Regions from separate parts of the Homo sapiens genome. Here region 2 is reported to be linked to region 1. Evidence: microRNA targets listed by miRTarBase, many of them from high-throughput screens and not tested one by one. Region 1 holds a microRNA gene; the other region holds the end of a gene's coding sequence.

The links. Region 1 holds the annotated microRNA hsa-miR-1226-3p (UCACCAGCCCUGUGUUCCCUAG, at 1,143-1,164, opposite strand). A microRNA usually pairs through its seed, bases 2 to 8, with sites in the 3' UTR of a target mRNA and lowers its output. Matches are read on the target gene's strand: a 7mer-m8 pairs with bases 2 to 8, a 7mer-A1 pairs with bases 2 to 7 and ends in A, and an 8mer does both.
Region 2: the mRNA of PAF1 is a reported target of hsa-miR-1226-3p. The part of its 3' UTR that is shown has no 7-base or 8-base seed match.

Annotation. Positions count from the first base shown.
Region 1 is chr3:47,847,772-47,850,771 of GRCh38, reverse strand. MIR1226 (microRNA 1226) reads right to left here and starts at 1,217; the gene lies at 1,143-1,217. DHX30 (DExH-box helicase 30) reads right to left here. Exons shown (of 22, transcript NM_138615.3): 14 at 2,816-2,991; 15 at 2,386-2,592; 16 at 2,222-2,303; 17 at 1,955-2,148; 18 at 1,693-1,852; 19 at 1,423-1,580; 20 at 1,218-1,321; 21 at 1,003-1,142; 22 at 579-905. The coding sequence ends at 652. It overlaps MAP4 (microtubule associated protein 4), which reads left to right. Exons shown (of 21, transcript NM_001385682.1): 21 at 1-77.
Region 2 is chr19:39,382,987-39,386,494 of GRCh38, forward strand. PAF1 (PAF1 component of Paf1/RNA polymerase II complex) reads right to left here. Exons shown (of 14, transcript NM_019088.4): 13 at 3,496-3,508; 14 at 2,643-3,417. The coding sequence ends at 3,005. It overlaps SAMD4B (sterile alpha motif domain containing 4B), which reads left to right. Exons shown (of 14, transcript NM_001384574.2): 13 at 222-305; 14 at 513-2,714. The coding sequence ends at 541. Among named protein-coding and RNA genes, the nearest start is that of PAF1, 6.4 kb to the right of the region's middle.

The DNA of each region.
Region 1 (3,000 bases):
CCATTACCTGTGTCAGTCCATGATTCTGTTGTAACAGTTTTAAGAGTAAATAAATAAAGCTGCCTGATGTCCCATCACGCAGGCTTCGTGCTTCTGTCTCGTTTTGCATCTACCACCTCCCTGGATCTTCCTGCCCTCAGCTCAGCCCCTCAGCTGTGAACTTGTGGATGTGGACACGGGAAGGACCACTGTGCCACATAGCCCTGCGCCTTGGCTACCTGTGGAACTCTCCCCTAGTCTGCCTGATAAAGGGCTACTTGACACTTACTTGCTTACTTACTGTCCAAAACTACAAGGACAGTGACAGTTCTGACAGGCTTCCTGTGGTGGGTACCGAGAGCAGCAGCTGTGCCAGGGGACTGGGGTGGTTAACAGCACCGCTGCTTCATGCTCTTTCTTGGTGAAGGGAGGAGGTTCCAACCCCCTTCTCTCTTAAAAGACTTGGGGCCACAGCCAGCCCGTTCCCCAGCAATAAGCATCTCACTCTCTTCTCTACCTACCTTCCTCCTTCCTCTTTGGGGAACCGTGGCCCAGTGTATGGAGGCCCTGAGAGAGGAGCCCCTAGTGGACAGCAGTGGTCACAAGGGATAAATAGAACTTTATTTTAAATAAACATTTGCACTCTGTACACAGCCCCAGCAGAAGCAGGGCTCAGTCGTCAGCTGTCTTGCGCACATCAAAGCTGCCACAGGGTCCTCGCAGCAGCTCTGCCAGTAGCGCAAGCAGCTGCCCGTGCTCCTCCTGTACGCTGGGGGGAAGTGCAGCCAGCTCGCTGCGCAGGCTCCGCTCCACCATGCGGCCCAGGGCCCGCCGCAGCTCCTTCAGCAGCCGCACGGTACGCGAGTCACCCTCCAGCCGCAGCAGGTCACTGTCGCTCAGTGAGATGGTGGCCCGGCGCCCGTCATCTGAGGGAATGGAAAAGATGGTGGGGAACTGTGGTGAGGCCAGGCCCCGGAGGAGCAGCTGCAGAGCGGGGTGGGCGGGAGGCCTGCAGGCACCCACCACGGATGTGCACGTCCCCGTCGGTCAGCAGCAGCACAGCTAGCGGGTGCACCTGAGAGGAGTCCCGGACGAAGACGCTGCCATTGGACTTGACTGCCATGAAATACGTCAGCCATCGGCTCCGTAACCGTGTGGCCTCCCTAGGGAACACAGGGCTGGTGAGGCCACCCTTTTGGACCATCCCAGCTGCCCCATCCAGGCCTGCATGCCCTCACCTGTTAATGGTCGACTTGTGCAGCAGGATGTTGCCTGATTTGGTCCTATATGTGACGCTGTTGGGCTTGAACTTCCCCTGCCGGGTGACCTTGCCCTGCCTCACCTGCAGGGATGGAGGAAAAGACGGGTGGGGCTGAGCAAGGAGCTGCAGACAGGGAAGGAGGCTGGGACCTGGTGAACTCCATTCCCTCCCAGAGGCAGCACCTGGATGAGGTTGGGGTAGAGGCCGGCCATCAGCACGCCCTTCACCAGCTCCTCCTCCTCACTGTACTCGTTGCACTGGGCGGAGGCCAGGGTGCAGTCCGAGGGCTTCCCCACCAGGAAGGCCTCATAAATGTTCTCTGAGAACTGCTTGATGAGTCCTAGGGAGACAGAATGTGTGGTGGACCTACAGCCCCTAGCCACAGGCTGGAGGTGACAGAAACTCAGTGGGGGTGGGAGGGGCTCAGGAGAGCAGGTGTGGGCCCGACTGACCGTGGATGAAGCGCAGGCTGGGTGCGTACAGCAGGTTTTCCTCCAGGTAATTCTCCCGGGAGCTGCGGTCCTGCCAACGCAGCACCTCCTCCCAGCCGGCGACAGCCCGCACAAAGGCCAGGTGGTCACTGCCGCTGTCATGGCTCAACAGTGCTTTCACCTGGGAGGGGAGAAGAGGGCAGCCGGATCACAGGCAGGGGCTAGACAACGCCCCCTCAGAACAGCAGTGGGTGGACGGCTCCAGGAAGGAGCCAGGACTGACCTTGTCCACCTCTGCCCGGTTCTGTAGGCTGCTGCTGAAGGGGTCCCGGGTGAGGCAGGAAACGACCACCAGTAGTGGGTGCAGGCAACGGAAGATGGCAGCCAACACAATGGCCTTGGCCAACCGGGGGTCGGTGGAGATGTGAGCCAGGCGCTGCCCCAGGGTAGTCAGGTACTCCCGCTGGTCCAGCACCCCTGCAACGGCTCAGCTGTCAGTACCACCCTCGAGAGCCACTCCCCAGCCCAGCCCAGCCCAGCCCCTACATACCGATCTCCTGGAGCAAGATCACAGCCTCGTCCACTGCCTTGATGTTTGGACTGTCCACAGCCTTGGACAGGAACTCCACCGCCTATGACAGAGCCAGAGCCCGCCATGAGCCTGCCTCCCACCTGCCTGGTCCCCAGGCCAGCCCCTGCCCCGCCCCGCCGCACCGTCTTCTCAGGCATGTGGATTTTCGCTTGCAGCACCAGGTTCTCAAGAGGTGTGCGCAGGATCTCTGGCACTTGGAAAGGGACCATTTTCTCCAGCCGGCTTCGAGGGAACAAGTGGTAGGCAAAGCCGGACTGGCAGCGGCCCGCCCGGCCCCGGCGCTGGATCACATTGGCTCTTGATACCCACACTGTCTCCAGGCAGGACACCTGGAGGAGGTGGCAAGTAAGCAGCACACAAATGCCACTTCCTCAGTGCTTCCCCACTCCCTGAGTAACCCTCACCAGCCCCCTACATCAGGAACACTGAGACCCCACAAGCGCGGCCTTCTGAAGACACACAAAGCAGGTCTAAGGTAGATCTGGGCTGGGGACCACCTCAAAACGGAGTCCCTCCCCCAGTGGTTGGCCGGGCCCAGGAGGTAGGTGCCACCTTGGTCTTCAGGTCATAGCGTTCTTCCTTGTGCAGCCCACTGTCCACCACATGCACGATGTCATTGATTGTGATGGAAGTCTCAGCAATGTTGGTGGCCAAGACAATCTTGCGCACCCCAACTGGAGGCTGCTGGAATATGGCCTTCTGATCCATCATGGGGATGTTGGAGTGCACTGGTGGGC
Region 2 (3,508 bases), not on the chromosome of region 1:
GTCGGGCTTTTTCTGTATTGCCAAGCCTCTGCCATTGCCATTGTCTCCTCTGCCTGTTGTGTGACACGCTCGCCTCTCTCCCTGTCCACCTCCTCCCGTTCTTCCCTCTCCCCCTCCATCTCTCTTGCTCCCTTCCCATACCAGCATCCTTTGTCATCCCAGCTGTCTTCACCTGAGTCCAGTTGGTCCTTACCACCCCCATTCTCCTCTCTCCCACCCAGACTGCCCGGTTCCTGGGCCTGACCTGGAGATCAATCCCACTCTGGAGTCTCTGTGTCTGAGCATGACAGAACACGCCTTGGGTGGTGAGCATTTCCTCTTTCCCTGACCCAGCTCCCACCTACCCAGCGTCTCTGCCTCTGAACTGAGCAACTCAGAGTCATCCTGAGGGGTCCCCAGGGGAGGCCAGACTCCAGGGAGGGCCTGACTGGGATGACAGGCTACCTGAGTGCCTTTTCTTGGGCCTCCCTCCAGCTCCTGATCTTCCTCCCTTCCTCCCTTTCTTACCACAGATGGGACAGACAAAACCTCCACCATCTGACGGGACCCACAGCCCAGCGCACCCATAGGCTCCCTGGGCGGCGGGCGGGGGCCAACCCCCAACGGGCTTCTCCGCGACAGCGAGAGGGTGGGCTGGCTCAGCTATATATTCTAATATTTTTCTACTCTCTTACCCTCTTAACTTTTGTTTAACATTGGCACATGCCTTGCTCACTCCCAGGCCCGTCGAGGGATCTCTGCTGAGGCCCGGGGAGTTGGGGGCAGCCAGGATAAAGGGGGCAGGGACTGGCCAGACTGCCTGCCTCTCTCCTTTCCTTCCTCATCCCCACCTGGTCCCATCCCACCCCTGCCTCCTCCAGACCGCTGACCACCTGCCTCTCCCCAAGGGAGCAGACTCCCCAGAGACAAACTGACCACTACCTTGTGGAGCCTGCTCAGAAACATTTGACATTTGGGGTGACGCGCAGGGCAGAGAACCTGCCCTCCAGAATGTTATTGAGAGGAGCTGGGGAGAAGGAAGGGGAGCAAGGAGAGGAAGCTCTCTCTCCTCTCCCTGCTTCCCCTTCACCATTCCCCACATTCTGCAAGGACAGGAGCCACCTTCCTCTCTCTCACCTCCCCTGGCCCTGTTCACCAGAGGTTCTCTATGATTAATTTCTTAGGCCTATTTAAGATACATATTTATATAGTTCTTAACGGTTTTTCTCTGATCATTTCCTCTCATTTTTAGAATCCCCAGGTCTCTCTCAGCCAAGACAGTGGCAGGGAGAGCCTGAACTTTATGAGGGGAGAGGGCAGAGCCCCCTCCTCCAGACCCTCAAGCTCTAACCCATTTTCCTCCAGCCCTGGCTACCCGGATGAAGAGGTTGGAGGTGGGCAGCCAGGGTAGCCAGTGAGGTCAGGAAGTCTGTTGCCTTAACGTCCCCTTCCCCACGAACACACACCCTTCTCCGCTCCCAGGTCTGGTTGGTGAGACTTGGGAGTCAGGAATAAGGGAAAGGGGATTGTTTGGTTTTTGGGTTTTTCCCTAAGCCCCTCCCTTTTCTTTCAGCCTTTTTCCTTCCCCCATTATGTCATGACCTCACTTAAGTGGAACACTATATCATAACCCAGAGATTCGTCCCAGCCCCAGAGTCCGACAGACTGTCTGGTCCCTATTCCTAATGAGGGGTTGTGTTGGGGCCCAGGTGGAGGGAGGGGATTTGGGGGTTCAGACTGCGGGGAAGCCAGGGTCTCCCTCTTCAACGCCCTCCTCCCCCTCAACCCACCTTCCCAACTGGGACATTCTCAAGCTTTTCACACCGAAAAGGAAAAAAAATGTTATTTTTAGATACATTTTATGAATAACTTTTGTTATGAATATGGCTGGTAACCATTGTGTATGTTATTAAAGATACAAAATGTTGGGAAAAAAACAAAAAAAACAAAAAAAAAAAAAATTTTAAAACCACCACCCTCCCTGCACTATCACCCCATTCCCCAGACCTTCTTGCCCCCGCCCTCCTGGTCTGTGGACTTCCCTCTGCTCTGAGCCCAGGGAGGGGGAAGAAGCCAGGGGGTAGGGTGGCCCTGGGAACCTGGCTCTGGGTCCCCACTTCCTCTCCCAGTGCCGGGCTGGGTGGGGTGTCAGGTTTATTTATGTACCTCTTGCACACTCATCAACCTATGCAAGTCCCCCACCCCGGCCCTCCATGTTTCTGTGCCTTTGCTCATCCCCTCAATCTCCCAGGGCTTCTCCAGTCCCCCTCCCACTAGCTGCAGGAAGTGGGATGGATGGGCCACCTCGTTTGGAATCAGCAGGGTGTCCCTCTCATGGGACCCTCCCCTCTCCCCAGCCTGTCCTGTCTTGTTCACTCTCCATCAGGGTGAGCTGACTGTGCCTGGCACTGGGAGGTGGTGAGGGACACCGTCTCACACACACAGGGAGGCAAGAGCTGCCCCCCACCCCACCTGACAGCAGAGTGTGCAGGACGCAGGCGGCCCCACTCTGATGGGCAGGACCCTGACCCTCTCCCGCTCCAGCCCCCTCCCCAGGCCCTCCTCCATGATTTCACCCTCCCTACCCACTTCTGTCCCCGGCCCCACTGGCAGAATCAGCTTTGAGTAACTGTACAGTTTTTCTCGCTGTTGGAGAAGACTTATTTGTTGGAGTTTCACTTGTTTAATGGTCTGGGCTTATTTTGGAAAAAAAAAAAACAAACAAAAAAAACGAATTCTGACCTTCGTTGTGCTACATTTTGTGGGAAACCATTGGCCCTGCCTCTGGCCTGTGTTTCTAAGCCTCAAGCCAAGATCCTTGAGCACCTGGGGGTTGCGGGAGGTATGTGCTGGGCTGAATGACATCATAGGGGCTGGGAGGGGAAGTAAAGAGAAGTTGACTTTATTAACAGCAAAGGTTTGGGGGTGGGGAACAAACAAGTGAAAGGCTCACAAACAGACCACTAGAAAAGTGCTTTGCTGCTCACAATAATGGTGTCTGAACCAGCCCTGAATGCCCTGGGACTCAGTCACTGTCACTATCAGCTTCACTGGAATCAGAAGCTGCAGCTTCACTGCCATCCTCCTGGGCCGAGTGCTCGCTGCCACTGGGGAAGGGACTGGCGCTGCGGCTGTGGCTCCGGCTCCGCTGGCCACCCCCATTGCTGCCGCTGTCTGAATCATTGTCACTGCCACCTTGGGCCTGTCCTCTGTCCTCATCATCAGAGTCGGCATCGTCCTCAGAATCAGCATCACTGCCAAAGATCTCCTCTTTGTCACGGGCAGCCCGGGCCTCATCCTCGCTGCTCTCGTCCTCACCACTGCCACTCTTGTCACTGGCCTCGTCCCTGTCACCTTCCTCCCGTTCACTCTCGCTGCCCGAGTGCTCATCTTCACTGCCCTCCTTCTCACTGCTGCTGCCCTTCTCCTGCTCCTCATCTGGAAGGGAGTGGAGAGAGATGAAACCCACTTTTCCACCCTCCCAGGGCTCCCAGAGTCTGGCCTGTCCAGATTTACCTGAGCCCCCAGC